Homo sapiens: one gene and its partners. The protein of the gene in region 2 binds, or shares a complex with, the protein of the main gene of each other region. Each region holds a gene or a part of one and is shown on either strand. Other genes may lie near its edges.

What was found. Proteins that work in one complex are often made in the same cells at the same time.
Region 1: the proteins of PKN1 (region 2) and RHOA are in contact, whole or in part, in a crystal structure (PDB 1CXZ), measured with the Homo sapiens proteins. Residues at the interface, in NP_002732.3 of Homo sapiens: Glu40, Arg43, Arg44, Ile46, Arg47, Leu50, Lys51, Lys53, Glu54, Glu57, Asn58, Arg60, Arg61, Leu77, Arg78, Ser81, Leu84, Asp85, His88; in NP_001300870.1 of Homo sapiens: Met1, Ala2, Phe25, Ser26, Lys27, Asp28, Gln29, Val43, Asp45, Ile46, Glu47, Gln52, Glu54, Thr163, Lys164, Arg168, Glu169.
Region 3: PKN1 (region 2) and NOD2 share a complex: the UniProt entries of both Homo sapiens proteins name them as parts of the signaling complex.

What each region holds. Positions count from the first base shown.
Region 1 is NC_000003.12:49,401,969-49,408,989, forward strand, and holds part of RHOA (transforming protein RhoA isoform 1 precursor), read right to left. Parts: intron 4,839-7,021; exon of another isoform or gene 4,744-4,838; intron 1-4,743. UniProt on the Homo sapiens protein: Small GTPase which cycles between an active GTP-bound and an inactive GDP-bound state.
Region 2 is NC_000019.10:14,464,290-14,471,310, forward strand, and holds part of PKN1 (serine/threonine-protein kinase N1), read left to right. Parts: intron 1-3,275; coding exon 3,276-3,352; intron 3,353-3,428; coding exon 3,429-3,504; intron 3,505-3,586; coding exon 3,587-3,678; intron 3,679-5,051; coding exon 5,052-5,228; intron 5,229-5,462; coding exon 5,463-5,525; intron 5,526-5,622; coding exon 5,623-5,699; intron 5,700-5,873; coding exon 5,874-6,016; intron 6,017-6,285; coding exon 6,286-6,393; intron 6,394-6,481; coding exon 6,482-6,562; intron 6,563-7,021. UniProt on the Homo sapiens protein: PKC-related serine/threonine-protein kinase involved in various processes such as regulation of the intermediate filaments of the actin cytoskeleton, cell migration, tumor cell invasion and transcription regulation.
Region 3 is NC_000016.10:50,688,601-50,696,613, reverse strand, and holds the start of NOD2 (nucleotide-binding oligomerization domain-containing protein 2), read right to left. Parts: upstream 3,009-8,013; 5' UTR 2,952-3,008; intron 1-2,951. UniProt on the Homo sapiens protein: Pattern recognition receptor (PRR) that detects bacterial peptidoglycan fragments and other danger signals and plays an important role in gastrointestinal immunity.

The DNA.
Region 1 (7,021 bases), on a different chromosome or scaffold from region 2:
GTAGCAGTAAGGGCACTTGGAGATCAAGAGCAGCAGGAATAAGGCACATGGTGGTAAGCAATGAAGAAAACCTTCAATTTACTGCCAAGTGAAAATCACTTCAAACTCAAGTTCTTTGGGGAAAGACAGGCAAGGAACAATCCCTGAGGTAACATACCGTCAAGTTTCCTAAATAAGAGCATGAAATCATTTATCTCAAAATGTAAATATTATAAGGTTAACCTTCAATGGATGCACAGAATCAGGATTTGACTTTGTTTGGCCTAATTCCAAACTTACATTGCCTCTAAGACAATGCGTATCTAGTAAAACTGACAAAGAAAAATGAACCATTAGGTACCTCCCAGTGAGCTGGCTAAGAATTTATATATGCTTATTGTAAACCTTATTGCAGGAGTTTACTTTTACCAAGTATATATATTTCTTAAAATAAAAAACTAGGCCGGGTGCAGTGGTTCACACCTATAATCCCACCACTTTGCGAGGCCAGAGCTCAGGAGTTAGAGACCAGCCTGGACAACATGGCAAAACGTCATCTCTATAAAAATTAAATTAATTAACTAGGTATGGTGGTGCTTGCCTGTAGTCCCAGATGCTCATGAGGCTGAGGCAGGAGTATTACTTGGGCACAAGAGTTAGAGGCTGCAGTGAGCCACGATAGCACCACTGCACTCCAGCCTGGGAAACAGATCAAGACTCTGTCTCAAAAACAAACCAAAACTTGTCATATTCTAGGAAGCCAAGCAAATAAAACGAATGAACAAAAAAACTAGTCTAAAAAACTTTAGGCCAGGAGCAGTGGCTCACACCTGTAATTCCAGCACTTTGGGAGACCGAGGCAGGAGGATCACAAGGTCAGGCCTTTGAGACCAGCCTGGCCAACATGGCGAAACCCCGTATCCACTAAAAACACAAAAAATTAGCCGGGCGTGGTGGCGGGTGCCTGTAGTTCCAGCTACTCGGGAGGCTGAAGCAGAAGAATCGCTTGAACCCGAGAGGCGGAGGTTGCAGTGAGTTGAGATCGTGCCACTGCACTGCAGCCTGGGCAACAGAGCGAGATTCCATCTCATAAAAAAAAAAAAAAAGAAACCCGCCGAGCGCGGTGGCTCACGCCTGTAATCCCAACACTTTGGGAAGCAGAGGCAGGCGGATCACAAGATCAGATCGAGACCATCCTGGCTAACAGAGTGAAACCCCATCTCTACTAAAAATACAAAAAGTTAGCTGGGTGTGGTGGCACGCACCTGTAGTCCCAGCTACTCAGGAGGCTGAGGCAGGGGAATCACTTGAACCCGGGAGGCAGAGGCTGCAGTGAGCCAAGATTGCGGCACTGCACTCCTAGATGACAGAATAAGACTCCGTCTCAAAAATAAAAATAAAAATTTAAAGCCTTGAGGAAATGCTCTTTAACTCGACTGAGTGGCAATTACTTGGGTATACACATTCATCAAAATTTATCAAACTGGCGGTTTGTGGTGGCTCATGCCTATAATCCCAGGGCTTTGTGAGGTTGAGACGAGAGAATCACTTAAGGCCAGGAGTTCAAGACCAGTCTGAGCACATAGTGAGACCCCTCTCTCTACAAAAAAAAAAATTACAAAATAAAAATGTAGCCAGGCGTGGTGGTGCACACCTGCAGTCCCAGCTACTCGGGAGGCTAAAGCAGAGAATTCTTGGGCCTAGGAGGTCGAGGATGTAGTAAGCCATGATTCCGACACTGCACTTCAGCTGGGTGACAGAACAAGGCCCTATGTCTAAAAAAAATAAGAACAAAAAAATTATCAAACTATCATTTAAAGTATGTGCATTTTATTGTATGCAAATTAAACCTCCATGAAGGTAATTAAACCTCAGGTGATTCCAATTTGGGGAACTGGATTCCAAGTTTGGGAACAGTGGAGTCTAGGAACCACTGTTCTTAAGTACCAGGAACCAAGTAGTAAGCCCTGTTTTATTCCAAGAAATCTTAGGGTGCTACTCCCACTACCCTCCCACCACCCCCGAAAAAAGGTACTACAAACTGTAACCTGAATAGTGAAAGTTGAAGATAGCTGGACTCAGTGGCTCATGCCCGTACTTGCAGCACTTTGGGAGTCTGAGGTGGGAGGACTGTTTGAGCCCAGGAGTCTGAGACCCAACCTGGGCAAGACAGCAAGACTCCATCTCTACAAAATGTAAAAATATTAGCTGGGCGCAGTGGCACATACACCTGTAGTCCCAGCTACTAGGGAGGACGAGGCGTAAGGATACCTTGACACCAAAAGTTGGAGGCCACCATGAGCTATGACTGTGCCACTGCACTCCAGCCTAGATGACAAAACAAGACCTTATCTCTCCAAAAAAAAGCCAGGCGCAGTGGCTCACACCCGTAATCCCAGTACTTTGGGAAGCCAAGGCAGGTGGATCACAAGGTCAGGAGTTCAAGACCAGCCTGGCCAACAAAGTAAAACCCCGTCTCTAGTAAAACACACACACACACACACACACACAAAATTAGCCGGGCATGGTGGCACGCACCTGTAGTCCCAGCTACTTGGGAGGCTGAGGCAGGAGAATCGCTTGCACCCTGGTAGGCAGAGATTGCAGTGAGCCGAGATTGTGCCACTACACTCCAGCTTAGACAACAGAGCAAGACTCCGTCTCAAAAAAAAAAAAAAAAAAAAAAAAAAAGGCCAGAAGGCCAGGCACGGTGGCTCACGGCTGTAATCCTAGCACTTTGGGAGGCCAAGGCAGGCAGATTGCCTGAGCTCAGGAGATGGAGACCAGCCTGGGCAACATGGTTAAACCCCGTCTCTACTAAAATACAAAAAAAAAAAAAAATTAGCCAGGCGTGGCAGCATGCACCTGTAGTCCCAGTTTACCTGGGAGGCTAAGGCAGGAGAACCGCATGAACCCGGGAGGCAGAGTTTGCAGTGAGCCGAGATCACGCCACTGCACTCCAGCCTGGGCGACAGAGCGAGACTCTTGTCTCCAAAAAAAAAAATAATAAAAAAAGTAGGCCAGGCGCGGTGGCTCACACCTATAATCCCAACACTTTGGGAGGCGGAGGCAGGCAGATCACCTGAGGTCAGGAGATCGGGACCATCCTGGCTAACACGGTAAAACCCTGTCTCTACTAAAAATACAAAAAAAAAAAACACCTAGCCGGGCGTGGTGGCGGGCACCTGTAGTCTCAGCTACTCAGGAGGCTGAGGAAGGAGAACTGCTTGAACTCGGAGGGCGGAGGTTGCAGTGAGCCGAGATCGCGCCACTGCACTCCAGCCTGGGTGACAGAGCGAGACTGTGTCTCAAAAAAAAAAAAAAAAAAAAAAAAATTAGCTGGGCATGGTGACATGCCTGTAAACCCCAACTAATGGGGAGGCTGAGGCAGGAGAATCACTTGAATCCAGGAGGTGGAGGTTGCAGTGAGCTGGGATCACGCCATTGCACTCCAGCCTGGGCAACAAGAGCAAAACTCCATCTCAAAAAATAAATAAATAAAATAAGTTAGTTGAAGGGCTACATGTCTGGCACTTGAGGTAAGTGCTTCTCTCTCACTGAAATCTCATGGCGCTTCCTTACCATTCCCTTTCTACAGAAGAAAAAAACTGAATTACAAAGGAGACATACTACTGCCAAGGGTCTCAAGCCATCAAGTGTCAGAGCTAGTATTTAACTGTCAGTTTCTCTCCAGAATCCATGCTCTTAAATAAGATACTCTACTGCCTTTTCTTTCCTTCTTTTTTTTGTGTGTATGTTTGAGACGGAGTTTCGCTCTGTTGCCCGGGCTGGAGTGCAGCAATCTTGGCTCACTGCAACCTGCGCCTCTCAAGTTCGAGGGATTCTCCTGCTTCAGCCTTCCGAGTAGCTGGGATTACAGGCACTCACTAATACACTCGGCTGATTTTTGTATTTTTAGTAGAGATGGGGTTTCACCATGTTGGTCAGACTGGTTTCGAACTCCTGACCTCAGGTGACCCACCCACCTCGGCCTCCCAAAGTGCTGGGATAACTGGCATGAGCCACCATACGCAGCCTGCCTTCTGTTTCTGAACTTAAGATCTTCAAAAGATAAACAGAGCTTCATTATGAATAACTGGAAAAGTTAAACAAGAGATTTCATCCAGAAAAGAAATTTTCCACACACACAAAAAAACAGGTATTTCCAACAAAGCTGCCATATCACATAATAAAATTATCTTGTAGAAAAAAGCATTAACAAAGTGTTACAACATTAAATATCCATCTTAAATTTACTTCCTTAACCTCTCAAAGCCTATATCCCAAACAAAGTTACAAAAAAAAATCCCAGTAGTAGAGCATATGATCTCTAGGTCCATGGAAGAGACACCAGAGAATCACAACTCATCTGCAACATACAGACTAGGATACAATGGCTAGAAGAATACAGTAAAATAAAAATGTATACATAACAAAAGTTAGAATGCTCAACCATATACTTGAAGTCAAAACAAGCAACTTTTTTAAATCATGGGACTGAATCCTTGTGCTTTAGAGCAGCTATAAGCTTCAGAAATTAAAAATCTTGGCCAGGGTAGCTCACGCCCGTAATCCCAGCAGGAAGCTGAGGCGGGTGGATTGCCTGAGGTCAGGAATTTGAGACCAGCCTGGCCGACATGGTAAAATTCTTGTCTCTACTAAAATACAAAATACAAAAATTAGCCAAGGGTGGTGGGCAGGTGGTGGATGGCACCTGTAATCGAGCTAGTGGGTAGGTTGAGGCACGAGAATCGCTTGACTCACATCTTTAATCCCAGCACTTTGGGAGGCTGAGGCAGGAGGACAACTTGAGCCCAGGAGTACAAGATCTGTCTGGGCAACATAGCAAGACACCATCTCTAGTACAAAAAAAGAGAAGAAAAAAATAAAGCAAAAAAATTTTAAAAACAAATCCTTAGTGGCTCATGCTTGTAATCCCAACACCTTGGGAGGCCAAGGTGGGTGGGTCACGGGGTCACGAGGTCAAGAGATCAAGGCCATCCTGGCCAACATGGTGAGATCCCGTCTTTACTAAAAATACAAAAATTAGTCGGGCATGGTCACACACACACACCTGTAGTCCCAGCTACTCTAGAGACTGAGGCACGAGAATCGCTTGAACCTGGGAAACAAAGGTTGAAGTGAACAAAGATCACTCACTGCACTCCAGCCTGGGTGACAGTGAGACCCTGTCTCAAGAGAAGAGAAGAGAAGAACCAATGACTTCAAATAAAATAGGCAGAAGTCACTAAGTCAAGGAAATTAATATTATGAAATCCTTTCCGTTTTTTTTTTTTTTTTTTTTTTTTTGAGTCTTGCACCGTCTCCCAGGCTGGAGTGCAATGGCTCGATCTCTGCTCACAGCAACCTCCGCCTCCCAGGTTAAAGTGATTCTCCTATCTCAGCCTCCTGAATAGCCGGGATTATAGGCGCCTGCTGCCACGCCCAGCTAATGTTTTGTATTTTTAGTAGAGACAGGGTTTCACCATGTGGCCAGGCTGGTCTCAAACTCCTGACCTCAAGTGATCCACCTGCCCAGCACTTCCAAAGTGCTGGGATTACAGGCATCAGCCACTGCTCCCAGCCAGGAATTCCTTTTTATATTTGTCCAAATTATCATATTAGTTTACTATTTAGTCAGAATGGAATTAGATCTACTCCTACTCACAGTGATTCTAGTTTTTTTTTTAATATCAGATCATGTCATTCCCTTTCTAAAGAATATCTAAATGACTTCTAATCTCAGAACAAATCCAAAGAATTTCCCATGTCCTAAAGGCCCTATATGATTTGGCCCCTGCCCACCTCTCTAACCTCTTTTTACCTCCAACTTTTCCTTTCACTCCACTTCAAACTTACTTCATTGGCTGTGTATGTTTTCCTCTTTCCCTTCACTTAAATTTAAGATACTATCATAAATATGCTTAAATATGGCCAGACATAGTGGCTCTCACCTGCAATCTCAACACTTTCAGAGGCCAAGGGGGGCAGATCACAAGGCCAGGAGTTCGAGAACAGCCTGACCAACATGGTGAAACCCCGTCTCTACTAAAAATACAAAAATTAGCTGAGCACAGTGGCGCATGCTGGTACTCCCAACTACTCCAGAGGCCGAGGCACAAGAATCACTTGAACTAGGAGGCGGCGGTTGCAGTGAGCCGAGATGGCGCTACTGCACTCTGGCCCGGACGACAGAGTGAGACTCAGTCTCAAAAGAGAAAAAAAAAAAAATATATATATATACACACACACATACACACACGTATATGTACACATATATATACGTATACACGTATATGTACACATATATATACGTATACACGTATATACGTATACACAAGTATATATACATATACACACACACACATATGCTTAAATATACATACTCATCCTCTTCAAAAAATAAAATCAAGCTAAGTTTGGCATAAACTGCATACTGATTGCAATTTAGCAAGAGTATTTGATGTTTTTCTTTATTATTAGCTATAAAAATGTATTTGGATGAAGCATCAATAAACTGAGACCAACACCCAGAACGAGCAGCTTCAGTGCCTGATTTTCAGTCACATGACTATCGTAATTATGAACATACCAAGGCCTTCACTTAATACTACAGCTCCACAGATTAAAGATGAGGGATTTTATAGTAATTACAAACTTCAAACCGTCTTGGAAATTTTAATCCCACAAATGAGCATGTCCCCAAAGAGCCCCATGTATAGCAAGGCATGTAACATTAAGTTCAAAATTTAGTTATATTAATGTGTAGTTACAAGCAAACAGTTCCATTGGGCAGGTAAACAAAGGAATAAACTAAATGGCAGAGTCAGACAAAATACTTAAGATCCTTTTTTTTTTTTTTTGAGACGGAGTCTCGCTCTGTTGCCCTGGCTGGAGCACAGTGGCGCGATCTCAGCTCACGGCAAGCTCCGCCTCTCGGGTTCACGCCATTCCCCTGCCTCAGCCTCCAGAGCAGCTGGGACTACAGGCGCCCGCCACCACACCCAGCTAATTTTTTTTGTATTTTTAGTAGAGACGGGGT
Region 2 (7,021 bases):
GCTGGTTAAAACGTGTGCCCAGATCCCCATCCTGGTTAAAAAACTGCTCATGCCTATAATCTCAGCACTTCTGGGAGGCTGACATGGGAGGATTGCTGGAGCCCAGGAGTTTGAGACCAGCCTGGGCAACACAGTGAGCCACTGTGAGCCATGATCCTGCCACTGCACTCCAGCCTGGGCAACATAGCGAAATACTATCTCAAAAAACAAAACAGGCTGGGCACAGTGGCTCACACCTGGAATCCCAGCACTTTGGGAGGCTGAGGCGGGTGGATCACTTGAGGCCAGGAGTTCAAGACCAGCCTGGCCAACACAATGAAACCCCGTCTCTAATAAAAATACAAGAATTAGCCGGGTACGGTGGTGGGCACCTGTAATCCCAGCTACCCGGGCAACTGGGGCAGGAGGATCAGTTGAACCTGAGAGGCGGAGGTTGCAGTAAGCCAAGATCATACCAATTGCGCTCCAGCCTGGGCGACAGAGCGACTCCATCTCAAAAAATAAAAATAAATAAAACTGTGAGCTCAGCGGCTGGACCCCCTGGGTTCCCACCCCTGCCGTGCCACCTCTTGGCTCTGCGCTTCACCTCTGTGCCTCAGTGTACCACTTTGCAAAACGAGCATATTTAAAACTCATGTCAATGATAGAATGATCGAGAGAGTGCTGTTCTCTAGGCAGAGGTTACCGCAAGCTGGGAGCCACAAGGGGACCTGCCGGGTGATGGAAATGTTCCTTATCTTGATCTCGGTCAGAGGTCAGCACGCGTTTTCCAGAAAGGGCCAGAGAGTCAATATTTTTGGCTTTGTGGGCTAGACAGTCCCTGTCTGCTTTGTAGTTTGAAAGCAGCCACAGACGATATATGTACACTGTAAGCGTGTCTCTATTCCAGTAAAACCTTATTGGTAGTACACGCGGAAGTTTGAACATTGTAGAACTTTCATGGGCAATGAAATATTATTCCTTTTTTTGTTTTTTTTTATTCCCCCAACGATTTAAAAATGTAAAAATCAGTTTACCTGTGGTCCCAGCTACTTGGGAGGCCGAGGCAGGAGGATGACTTGAGCCCAGGAGTTGGAGTCTGGCCTGAACAACATGGCAAAACTCCATCTCTTTTTTTTTTTTTTTTGAGATGGAGTCTCACTCTGTTGCCCAGGCTGGAGTGCAGTGGCGTGATCTAGGCTCACTGCAACCTCTGCCTCCCAGGTTCAAGGGATTCTCCTGCCTCAACCACCCGAGTAGCTGGGACTACAGGTGTGTGCCCACCACACCCAGCTAATTTTTGTATTTTTAATAGAGACGGGGTTTCACCTCGTTGGCCAGGCTGGTCTTGAACTCCTGACCTCAGATGATCTGCCCACCTCAGCCTCCCAAAGTGCTGGGATTATAGGTGTGAGTCACCATGCCCGGCCACTGCATCTCTTAAAAAAAAAAAAAATAGTGAAAGCCATTCTTAGCTCTTACAAACTATAAAAACAGGCTGGCCCACCAGCCAGCATTTGCCAACTCCTAGGCTGGCTGATGGTTTCCTGGGTGGATGCATATGTAACCTGTTCCTCTTGCCCACCTCACTGAATGCATTTTATTTATTTATTTATTTTGAGACAGAGTCTCACTCTGTCGCCCAGAATGGGCGTTGGAATGCAGTGGCGTGATCTCAGCTCACTCCAATCTCCGCCTCTCAGGTTCAAAGATGCCCATGCCTCAGCCTCCCTAATAGCTGGGACTACAGGCATGTGCCATCATGCCCAACTAATTTTTGGTTTTAGTAGAGATGGGGTTTCACCATGTTGGCCAGGCTGGTCTTGAACTCCTGACCTCAAGTGTTCTCCCCTCTGCAGCCTCCCAAATTGCTGAGATACAGGTATGAGCTACTGCACCCAGCCTGAATGCATTTTATCTTTTATCTTTTTTTTTTGAAACGGGGTCTCGCTCTGCCATCCAGGGTGGAGTGCAGTGGCGCAGTCATGGCTCGCTGCAGCCTCGACCTCCTGAGCTCAGGTGATCCTCTCACTTCAGCCTCCCAAGTAACTGGGACTACAGGCGTGCACCACCACACCTGGCTAATTTTTTATAGATCTAATTTTTTAGAAAGTAGAAGTAATGGGTTGGGCATGGTGGCTCACGCCTGTAATCCCAGCACTTTGGAGTCAAGAGATCAAGACTATCCTGGCTAACATGGTGAAATCCCATCTCTACTAAAAATACAAAAATTAGCCGGGCGTGGTGGCGCACGCCTGTAATCCCAGCTACTTGGGAGGCTGAGGCAGGAGAATTGCTGGAATCTGGGAGGCGGAGGTTGCAGTGAGCTGAGATCACACCACTGTACCCCAGCCTGGGCGACAGAGTGAGACTCAGTCTCAAAAATAAAAAAAATAATAATAAAAAATGGACATTGTCAAGCCAGGCATGATGGCTTGCACTTGTAGTCCCAGCTACTCAGGAAGCTGAACGAAGAAGATCGCTTGAGGCCAGAAGTTTGAGACCAGCCTGAGGAACAGAACAAGACCCCATCTCTACAAAAATTAGGCCGGGCGCGGTGGCTGACGCCTGTAATCCCAGCACTTTGGGAGGCTGAGGCAGGTGGATCACCTCAGGTCGGGAGTTGAAGACCACCCTGACCAACATGGAGAAACCCCATCTCTACTAAAAATATAAAAAATTAGCCGGGCGTAGTGGTGCATGCCTGTAATCCCAGCTGTTTGGGAGGCTGAGGTAGGAGAATCACTTGAATCCGGGAGGCGGAGGTTGCAGTGAGCGAAGATCACACCATTGTACTCCAGCCTGGGCAACAAGAGTGAAACTCCATCTCAAAAAAAAAAAAAATGAGCTGGACGTGGTGGTGCATGCCTTTAGTCCCAGCTACTCAGGAGGCGGAGGTAGAGTTGGAGGCTGCACTGAGCTATGACTGCGCCCCTGCACTCCATCCTGGAAGACAGAGCAAGACCCTGTCTCTAAAAAAAAAAATTCAGGTTGGGCATGGTGGCTCACGCCTGTAATCCTGGCACTTTGGGAGGCCGAGGCGGGTGGATCACCTGAGATCAGGAGTTCCAGACCAGCCTGGCCAACATGGTGAAACCCCGTCTCTACTAAAAATACAAAAATTAGCCAGCCATGGTGGTGCAGGCGTGTGGCTGGAGGAGAGTGAGTGAGGGGCTGCGTGGGAGGAGAGGTGAGGACAGAGAGGTCGGGGGCAGATCTTGCAGGGCCTCGGAGGCTGCTGTGGTTATGAGGGCATCTCTGACTCCCCTTACTCTGGCCTCCTCTCTCCGCCACAGAGCTCCCCCATCCAGGAATCCACTGCTCCCGAGCTGCCTTCGGAGACCCAGGAGACCCCAGGCCCCGCCCTGTGCAGGTGACACCACTCCCTGGCCCCCTGTCCACCACCCCTGCCCGCTGTCCTTGTTCTCACCAGTGGCCTCTCTCCACAGCCCTCTGAGGAAGTCACCTCTGACCCTCGAAGATTTCAAGTTCCTGGCGGTGCTGGGCCGGGGTCATTTTGGGAAGGTGAGGTGGAGGGCAGGGAATTGGGAGACCCCCCAGGTCCCTGGCTGGCCGCTAAAACCACCCCTGCCCACTGTGGTTCCAGGTGCTCCTCTCCGAATTCCGGCCCAGTGGGGAGCTGTTCGCCATCAAGGCTCTGAAGAAAGGGGACATTGTGGCCCGAGACGAGGTGGAGAGGTGGGGACCTGCCGTGGTCCTCTGGGGACCTCTTTCTTCTCTTTTGGGAAATGACAGAGCAGTTCTCTCCTTGGAGCTACAGGGAGAGTGACTCATAGTAGTCACTAACGCCAGGCACAGTGGCTCTTACCTGTAATCCCAGCACTCTGGGAGGCCGAGGCAGGTGGATCACTTGGGCTCAGAATTTCAAGACCAGGCTGGGCAACATGGTGACACCCCCATCTTTACAAAAAATACAAAATAATTAGCTGGGTGTGGTGGCACATGCTTGTAGCCCCAGCTACTCATGAGGCTGAGATAGGAGGATCGCCTGAGCCCAGTAGGTCAAGGTTGCAGTGAGCTGAGATCGCGCCACTGCACTCCAGCCTGGGCAACACAGTGAGACCCTGTCTCAAAACAAAAAGTCACTAATACCTACTAGCCTAATACCAAGATAATAATAGCTCTTAGGAAAGTTATTCATTTGTTCCTCCATGTAGCCCTATAAGATAAATACTGATGGCACAGAGAGGTTCAGCAATTTACCCAAGGTCACACAGCCAGTAAGCAGCAGGTCCAGGATTCAAAGCTAGAGACTCAGGCTCTGAAGCCTGTGCCCTTTGTGGTGCCACCATACTGCCTCTGCTTTAGGGTCAGGTTCCTGGGTTCAAATCTCAATTCTGCAGCATGGGCTTGGAGATCCTGGGGAGGTCACTTCTCCCTTCAGAACCTCAGCTTCTTGGCTGGGCATGGTGGCTCACGCCTGTAATCCCAGCACTTTGGGAGGCTGAGGTGGGCAGATCATCTGAGGTCAGGACATCGAGACCAGTGTGGCCAACATGGTGAAACCCCGTCTCTACTAAAAATACAAAAATCAGCCAGGCATGGTGGCGGGTGCCTGTAGTCCCACCTACTTGGGAGGCTGAGGCAGGAGTATCGCTTGAACCCAGGAGGCGGAGGTTGCAGTGAGCCAAGATCGCACCACTGCACTCCAGCCTGACTCTGTCTCAAAAAAAAAAAAAAAAAAAAAAAAGAACCCCTCTTGTTGTGGAGAAGCAGAATGCTATTGCCTTCCACACATGGTTGTCAGGTGCTCTCTACACAGTGCCTAACCCCTCTAAACATTCGGTACAGGCACTGAGATTGTGCCTGGTCTTCCCAGCATCCTTTTGATAATCAGGAACCCAACTGAGAAAGACTGAAACAAGTAAAGAAATTTATTGGTCTGGATCTGAAAAGTCCAGGAGTGTGCTACCTTCAGGCATGGCTGTATCCAGGTGCTGAGATGACGTTTCTCAGTTCTGCTTCCCTCTGTATGGGCTTTGGTTGCCATCTGGGAGTCTGGAGTAAGTGGCGGCCATGGTCTCTGACTTCTATCCCCCACCCCTCCCCAGCCTGATGTGTGAGAAGCGGATATTGGCGGCAGTGACCAGTGCGGGACACCCCTTCCTGGTGAACCTCTTCGGCTGTTTCCAGACACCGGAGCACGTGTGCTTCGTGATGGAGTACTCGGCCGGTGGGGACCTGATGCTGCACATCCACAGCGACGTGTTCTCTGAGCCCCGTGCCATGTGAGCCTGGACCCCAGCCCGGGCCCCTGCCTCCCCTACAGCATCTGACACTTAGTCCCCCCGAGAGGCTGGCAGCCTGCTTCTCACCCCTCCACCCTCAGGCCTTGCTTCCCTCAGCCTCCCAGAGCTTTGGGGAGACTGGGGGGCTTTTGAGGATGTGGAAGCCAGGCTTATGTGACCCTCCCTCCTTGCAGGGTGGCCCCACCCCTCTCAGCAGCCTCTCTCTCTCTGCAGCTTTTATTCCGCCTGCGTGGTGCTGGGCCTACAGTTTCTTCACGAACACAAGATCGTCTACAGGTGTGTGCGTGTGTGCATGCATGTGCACACTGCCCGTTGTGGGGACAGGACCCAGACCCCCGCTCATCCCTCTTTCCACCCCTCCAACCCCCAACAGGGACCTGAAGTTGGACAATTTGCTCCTGGACACCGAGGGCTACGTCAAGATCGCAGACTTTGGCCTCTGCAAGGAGGGTGAGGGGCTGGCCTCTGGATTAGACAAAGGAGGGGGAAGGAATGGGGTCCCTAACCCTATTCGGGGTGCCCCCCACCCTGACCCTGGGACAGGGCTGGCTGTGTGGACAACCCCACATTGGGCTGAGTGACTCCTCTGGCCCCCATAACCTCACATGGCCTTGCTGTCCCCAGGGATGGGCTATGGGGACCGGACCAGCACATTCTGTGGGACCCCGGAGTTCCTGGCCCCTGAGGTGCTGACGGACACGTCGTACACGCGAGCTGTGGACTGGTGGGGACTGGGTGTGCTGCTCTACGAGATGCTGGTTGGCGAGGTGAGACCCCGCCCCTGTGTGTCTCGGATCTCATTGGAACCTGCGCGTGCCCAGGGTGGGATCCAAGTCTGCCTCCACCATGTGTTGTGTGATTGAGGGCTGCTGGCTCTGCTTCCCTGGCCTCAGTTTCCACATCTATAAAATGGGGCATTTCCCTGCCCAAGTAAGCCAGCACCCAAGAGCTGCAGCAGAGTGTGGGGCTCAGGCCGGGCTGGGTTTGGAGCAGCCAGAGGAGGGGCCTCGTTCACCCCGGGCCTCCCTCTCCCCAGTCCCCATTCCCAGGGGATGATGAGGAGGAGGTCTTCGACAGCATCGTCAACGACGAGGTTCGCTACCCCCGCTTCCTGTCGGCCGAAGCCATCGGCATCATGAGAAGGGTGAGGACCCCCGACGTGGGGCGGGCCTGGGGAGGGGCAGTGGGGCCCAGGAGGGGACAGATCCTGACACAGTGCTCCTTCCTCCAAGCTGCTTCGGAGGAACCCAGAGCGGAGGCTGGGATCTAGCGAGAGAGATGCAGAAGATGTGAAGAAACAGCCCTTCTTCAGGGTGAGATTCCCCACAAGGACCTCAGTGACCCCGGCCCTCCCCCAGGGCCGATTCATCACCCCACAGCAGACGGCCCCCATGCCTAGCCGCTTTGCCTCAAGGGCCTCGTTGCGCCTCAAGGGCCTCGTTGCACCTCCAGGGCAACATCGTCACCTCCTTTGACACCCCCATTTCCCTCCTCCACTTTTGTTCCCCCCAAGGACCCTCCTAATCCCACATCTCCACTTTTCCCTTTTTTTTTTTTTTTTAGCCAGGGTCTCGCTCTGTCGCCCAGGCTGGAGTGCAGTGGCTCAATCTCGGCTCACTGCAACCTCCGCCTCCCAGGTTCATGCAGTTCTCCTGCCTCAGCCTCCCGAGTACCTGGGATTACAGGCGTGCACCACTCCACCACACCAGGCTAATTTTTGTATTTTTAGTAGAGACGGGGTTTCGCCATGTTGGCCAGGCTGGTCCTGAACT
Region 3 (8,013 bases), on a different chromosome or scaffold from region 2:
GGAAGTTAATCATTATGTCTAGCTTCAGTTTCTCCTGCTTCAGTTTAAATTGGGAAAGAGAGAGAAAAAATATTCACTCATTATCTGTTTCCTAAAATTGTCCTTAACATCCTTCCTCTTACTCCTTTATTACCTGGTCGGGCTTCCCCTCTTCAGGCGAAATCTGTCAGTCTATCTGCATTGCCTTTTGATCTCTACTTCAGTTACTACAACTTCAAAGACACCATTGTCCTCCCCAAGGTGAGGCCCATGTAGAGAAAGGATCACTTCCTTGCTGAAAGAGAGGGTCAAGGGGCGACCCACGTGGGCCCTCCCTGAAACCCAGGCCCAGGCCTGAGCCTGGACACCTCCTTCCTTCCTGAGACCACAGCCAGCCCGGTTTCTCTGGGGCCAAGAGCAAATGCTTTGCTTAAGTGCTGAAATCTCAGCCCACTGACCCCTTGCAGACAGGAGAGGAGGGGAAGCCCAGGGAAGCTCAACTTCCCAAGTGTCCTGAGTCTCTGCTGGGGCCAAGCCCCCCACCCTCCCCCAGCTATCCTGCATTCTCCCTCCCTAACACTGTTCTCTCCCTAAGAGATCAAATCCCCCCACCAGTGCACAATGCACTCTAATTCTCCATTGTAAAAGTAAAGCACTCTCTTGACACTCCCCTTCTTCATTTGGCTCCAATCCCATTTATCTGCTCCCTTTACAGCAGGCCCCCTTGTCTGTTGCCTGTACTGCTGTCCCCAAGTCCTCCCATCCCCTCCCATTCCCTCTAGTTCCCCATCCAGCTCCAGTGAAACTGTCACCAGTGACCTCCCATTGCTCAATCCTCAGCCCTCAGCCTGCTTGCTCTGCCAGGGGCATTGGTCATATTTGTTCCCTCCTTCCTCTTTGGGGCATTTTCTTCATTTCCTCCAGGACACCCCAACTCTCTGATTTTCACTCTTTCTGTCTTCTTGGCTGGTTCCTAACACTGGGGGCCCCAGCACTCAATGGTTAGACCCCTTCTCTTCTCCATATCACTCCATCCCTAGATGAGCCCACCTGCTCTTGTGGCTTTAAATACCAGTTATATGGTGATGATGCCCAAAGTTTTATTTTCAACTCCAACCTCCGCCCTTAACTTTTCCCAACTGCTTACTCATCATTGATGCCTAATGGGCAGCTCAAACTCCACAAGCACAAAACCAAACTCTTGATCTCTCCGCTAAGCAACTCCCATTTCAGTTCATGGCAGCTTCAAACCTCCAGAAGCTCGAGCCAAACACTCAGAATCATCTTTGACTCTACCTTTCTCTTGCACCCCAAACCCTATCGACACGGCCTTTGAAATATATCCCAAATCTGAATGTCTGGTTTTCTTTTTTTTAACCACCTCTGGGCCATGGGCAAGACACCATGGTCTCTCCCGAGAATGACAGCAATGATCCGCTCAACGGGCTCTCCTTCTGCCCTTACCCCACCCCCCCCATGATCCATTCTCCACCCCACAGCTAGATGGGCCTGCCAGACCCCAAGTCAAAGCAGGTGACTCCTCTGTTCCAAACCCGTGCTCCCATCATGCTCAGAGTGAAAACCAAAGCCTCCCAGCCCCCCAGATACTCATGTGGCTCACCCCTCAATTCCTTATGACTTTGCCCAGCTATCGTGGTCTTGGGGAAGCCTTCCCTGGTTGTGCTATATACAATGCAATACCCAGCCCCAGCACCCCATCCTGCTTCCCAGCTTTGTTTTACTCGTAGTACTTCCCGCCACCTGCTACGCCATGTATTTACTTATTTCATTGCTGTCCATTCCTTTCTAGAGTGTGCACTCCATGAGGGCAGGGGGTTTTGTCTGATTTTCCTACTGCTCTGTCTCGTGTCTCATCCAGTGCATGAATGATGACTGCTGGAAAGAATGAAAGAACTGACTTGCTCTGCATGGCTCCGGGAGACAGACATGGAACCAAGGTGTAGAATCTGTAAGCCACAGATTTTAGCTAAAGGAAACAAGAGCTGCAAGGCACTAAAAAGCCACCTCATCAGTAATAAGCTCCCCACCACTGGGCATGTGTCACAGAGGGGCTCTGCACTGGGTAGGAGGGAGGTGGGCTGGATGAGGATGCTTCCAGCCTCAGATCCCAGGGTGCAGCGAGGCAAAGGGGCCTTGAGCAGCCAACAAACTCAGGGGCCCCAGCAGCCCCATGGCTGAGTGATCGGGACAGGCAAGTACAGGTGGTGGGGATGTCACTCTGGTCTTTTTCACTAAGGGGTCAGGGGAGGGTGACAGGGCAGGTGTTTCCCCTCTGTAGAACAAGGACCCTGGAGGAGGCTAGGTCACAGCCCATGGGGAAACCAAGGCCATGGCAGGAGAGGCTCAGAAAGAGCAAACTCAGAAGCAGGGGTCCAGCCCCCAGCCCTCATGCAGCTTCAGGAGGTCCTCCCCAGGGGGATTGGGGTGGAGGGCTTTTCAGTTTGTTGGAATGAAAGCAGGACCAGATGGCTGCTCCATCAACCTGAGAAGCATAGGAGAGCAAACAGCTGGGGGATGTGGCCTCGCAGGTCCTGGTGTGGGCTGTCTGGGAAGGGATGGATTTGAACTTAGATCTCACACCCAACAAGGGAGAAGGAGGAGGCAGGAGATTCCCATAAGAGGTACAGAGAGCAGCAGCAGGATCCTCCAGGCAGACTCTCTCACTTATACCCACCCACTCACTGGCATGGTGAAGCTGGGGAAACTGAGTCCCACAGAGAGGAAGGAAATCAAAAGAGTGGCCCAGGGGCCTCCCCAACCTCGAGATGCCCCCTTTCCGTCTCACTTCCCATCTACATTCTGGGACTCCCCCAGGAGAAACCGAGGCAACCCTTGCCCAAGCCCTGCGGCCAGGACGGCTCAGAAGCCAAGTGTTCAAGTCCCGGGGGTGGGACCCTCGGCGCCCACAGTCTCCCCCCAGCCCACCCCCAGGCGCTGGGCACAGCACTCACCGCGAGCCGCCTGCGCGCCGACTCCAAGGCCCACTCCGGGCCACGACTCCCGGCTCCGGCTCCGGCTCGGGCTGCGGCTCCGGGTGCGCGGGCGCTCGGCTCCGCCCCCGCCCGGACCCCGCCCCTGCTCTGCCGGGACCGCAGCACCCGCTCCTGTCCCGTGGCCCCGCAGCCCCGCAGCCCCGCAGCCCCGCAGCGCCGGCTCCAGGGCTGGCCAGGCTTACCTGGGACAGGGCAGGACCGGGGCTTCCTGCGGGGCTGGACGGCCCTGGCTGTGTGCCCTAGCCAGTGTGCCTCTCTTTCTGGGCCACGTTTCAACCAGGAGGGAATCGGGGAGTCCTCGGAACAACCCGCTTCCCAACACATACACATACACACACACACACACCACACACCACACACACCGCTTCCCAGCACACACGCGCACACACACACACCACACACACACCGCTTCGCAACACACACACACGCCCTGCTTCCCCCCCACACGCAAACATGTTTCCCAATACACACACACAGCCCTCGCTTCCCCCCACACACAAACATGCTTCCCAATACACACACAGCCCTCGCTTCCCCCAACACACATACCTTGCTTCCCAACACTCACATACACACACACACACGCCCTGCTTCCCCCCACCACAAACATGCTTCCCGATACACATACACCCCCTACTTCCAACACACACACCCTGCTTCCCAACACTCACACACACACCACTTCCCAACACACACACACCCTGCTTTCCCAACACATACACCCCACACACACCGCTTCCCAACACACACGTGCACACACACACACACCCCACACACACACCACTTTCCAACACAAACACACACTACACTCCCTGCTTTCCCAACACACACACACCCCACACACACTGCTTCCCAACACACACGTGCACATACACACACCCCACACACACACCACTTCCCAACACACACACACCACACCCCACACACACCACTTCCCAACACACACACCGCTTCCCAACACACACAAACATGCTTCCCAATATACACACACCCCACTTCCCAACACACACACATCGCTTCCCAACACACACATCGCTTCCCAACACACGCCTCACTTCCCAACACACACACACACACACACGCACACACAGCCAAAACTAGGAAAACTTTTCCAGAGTGTGACAGGTTACATGTTAGGTAAGAGTGGACTGGTCATTTAAGGTTCTTTTTTTTCATTTTCCTTTCAGTTTTTCCGTTTATGTTGAATGGAGTTTATTTCTCAGTTTAGTACTAATAGGGTTTGAGTACCTTTCTAGCACTGCCTAGATTACTTGGCTCTGAAACTATCTAATTAGCTTTAATAGCATTGTTTTTGTTTCCATTAAATATATTTTATTTTACATTCTTCTGTTCTCCGGAGCAAATGACACCGGTTTTCCATTTAACATGTTAATGTAAATGTTCCTTTTGAAACTCATATTTGGTTGTTTTAAAAAATGTGAAGTCAATTTTTAAAAATAACGAAAATAACTGGCATCTAGAAAGTGTTTACCATGTGCTAGTCTTTACAGACAGTAACTCAGTTACTTCCACCTCTAGGGTATTGACTATTATTGCCTCTAACTTATAGATGCAGAAACTGAGGTACACATTTGAACTTTGATCTCACGCCCACCAAGGGAGAAGGAGGAGGCAGGAGATTCCCCTAAGAGGTGCAGAGAGCAGCAGTAGGATCCTCCAGGCAGACTCGCTCACTTACACCCACCCACTCACTGGCATGGTGAAGATGGGGAAACTGAGTCCCACAGAGAGGAAGGTACTCAAAAAACAGTGGCCCCCTCTGAGACCTGAAGCCCGGGCTCCTCAGGACTTCTCACTCCTGCCAGGGGCCTCCCCAGCCTCGAGATGCCCCCTTTCCTCTGGCACCAGAGATGGGGATTTGCCCCAGGCCTCTGGCACAGATGAATGCTCTAACCACTACCCCATACCGCTTTCAAGTAAATACCTGTGCAGGTGGTGCACAGTCAGCCAAGGTTGGAAAATGCTGCATTAGAAGGACTGAATCTACCCTAGAAAATTCATTCTGGGCAGCGCACAGAACCATCTACAAGGATGTTCACCACCATCTTGCCTACAGCAGTGAGAAGCTAGAAACCTCCCTAATGCCCAGTAACAGAAAATTAATTAAGAAAACTGACAGAACATCTGAACCTAGAACACTTAACCCGACCCATCTTCTCTCAGCCCCACTATCCAATCTGGGAGCAAATTTTTCAGCTTGGCCTTCAAATATTTCCAAGCTGCAGCCCATTTTTGCCATATGCACCATTACCACCTGGGTCCACATCTCCATCATCTCTCACCTGGGTGATAGCAGGAGTTCCTGGCCATTCTCCACGCCTCCATCTACAGCCCTTCTTCAATCCAGCAGCCAGAGTGAGTCTGTTGGTTTTGCTGTTGTTGTCGTTGTTGCTGTTTTAAGTCAAATTCTATCACTCCTCTGCTGAAACTCTTCTGTTGATGGCTCCCATCCCAAAGTAAAAGCCAAGGTCCTTACAATTGCTGTTTGGCCTCTGGCACCCTCTCTGCCCACCTCTTACACTCTCATCTTACTCACTCTGCTCCAGCTACACTGGCCTCCTGGCTGTTCCTCAAATATGCCAAACCTGCAGTTACACTCAGGCCTTTGCCTTTGCTGTGCCTGGAATGCTCTTTCTTTAGAAATCTACCTGGCTCCCTCCTTCCTCTCCTTTGGGTCTTTGCTTCCATATGACTTTCTCGGCAAGGCCTTCCCTAACTATTCGGTGTACAGCTGCAACACCCTCCAATCCCTTCTCTCCTGCTTTATTTTGTATTTTTCTCCATAGCGCTTATCTGCACACAACACATTATGTATTCTACTTATTTATTGTCTTTGTTGTTGGTCTCTCACCCAAGACAGCATGAGCTCCAAGGGAACAGGGAATTTTTGCTTTGTCCCTTGCCTTCTCCCAAGGCCTAGAACAGGACCTGGCATGCAATAAATCTTTGTTGAGTGAATATACTAAAAATAATGCTGTGGTTCTAATAACCAATGAAAATAAATGAATCACTGTACCCCCACGAGAACTGCAGCCTCACAGACATAATGTTGGGTGAAACAGGCTGAGTGCAAGAGCGTGCATACGGAATGGTATCCTTTCTATAAAGTTCAAAAGCAGGCAAAACTGCATTACAGGTAGGAGCCAAGATAGAGGCTACCACTGGGGAGAAAGTTGGAGGTAGTGACTAGGGGAGGAGTGAAGGGGACTTCTGGGGTGCCAGTAATCTCCTATTTTTACTCTGAATAGTGGTTGCATTGATGCAAATACATTGTGAAACTGACCAAGTTAAACACATGATATTTATATTTTCCTTTATGCTTGTCATATTTCAATAGATATTTATTTTTTAAAGATGCTATAAGTATGTTTATCAGATAGAAAGCTGCCTAGAATATATAAGGCTAAATTTATAAAGTAGACTCTTTTTTGAACGAGGATGCCAAGATGATTCAGGGGGAAAAAAGTGGTCTTTTTAACAAATGGTGCTGGGAAAACTAGATGTCCACATGCAAAAGAACTGAATTTGGATTCCTCCTTCAGGCCTTATACAAAAATTAACCCAAAATGGATCAAAGTCCCAAATGCAAGATTTAAAATATAAAAATCTTAGAAGAAAACATAGGTGAAAATCTTTGTGACCTTGGATGAAGCAATGATTTCTCAGATTTGACACCTAAAGCACAAACAACCAAAGAAAAAAATAGATAAGTTGGACTTTATCAAAATTCCAAGCTTTTGTGCTTTGAAAGACATGATCAAGAAAGTAAAAAGACAACCAACGGAATGGGAGAAAATAGTCACGACTCATATCCAGAATATATAAAGGACTCCTGAAACTCAATAACAAACAACTTTTTAAATGAGCAAAGGATTTGAAAATGTTCAGAGAACGTATGTAAGTAGCCAACAAGCACATGAAAAGACGCTCAACATCATTAATTGTTAGGGAAATGTGAATCAAAGCCACCATAAGATACCACTTTACACTCACAAAGGTGCCCTTAGTCCAAAGGACAGAAAACAAGTGCTGGAAATAATGTGGAGAAACTGGAAGCCTCATACATTGGTGGTTAGAGCGTAAAGTGGTGAAGCCACTGTGGAAAATAGTTTGTGGGTTCTTCATAAAGTTAAACATGGTGTTACCATATGATCCAGCAATTCTACTCCTAGGTATACTCAACAGAATTGAAGCATATATGCACACAAATGCTTGTACACAAATGTTCATAGCAACATTATTCATAAGAGGAAAAAGTGGAAGCAAACTAAATGTCCCTCAGCTGATGAATGGATAAAGAAAATGTGATCTATCTGTGCAATGGAATATTATTCAGCTGTGAAAAAAACAAAGTACTGATAAATGCTACAACATAAATGAACCTTGAAAACATTATGCTAAGTGAAAGAAGCCAGTCACAAAATGACATCTATTGTGTAAGTCCGTTTACATGCAATGTCCGGAATAGGCAAACCCATGAAGACAGAAAGTAGATTTGTTGGTTGCCAGGAACTGAGAGGAGGGAGGAATGAGGAGTGACTGCTAGTGGGCATGAGGTTTGGTTTTTGTTTTGTTTTGTTTTGTTTTGTTTTTGCATGATGAAAATATTCCGGAATTAGATCATGGTGATGGTTACACAACCTTGTGAATGGACTAAAAACCAGTGAATTACACACCTTAAAAGGGTGAGTTTTATGGTATGTGAATTATATCTCAATGAAAAACAGTTGGGCTGCCAAATGCTTTGTGTAGAAAGAATATAAGGCTAAATTTAAAGAGTAGGTTGTTTTTTAACAAGGATGCCAAGATAATTCAAAGGGGAAAAATGATCTCTTTAACACATGGTGCTGGGAAAACTAGATATCCACGTGCAAAAGAAATGAATTTGGACTACTACCTCATACTTTATACAAAAATTCTGTAATAGATATGTGTGAATATATGCATTGAAACATCTAAAAGACAAGTTAGGATCGGATTTTAACTGGACTTTTAAAAT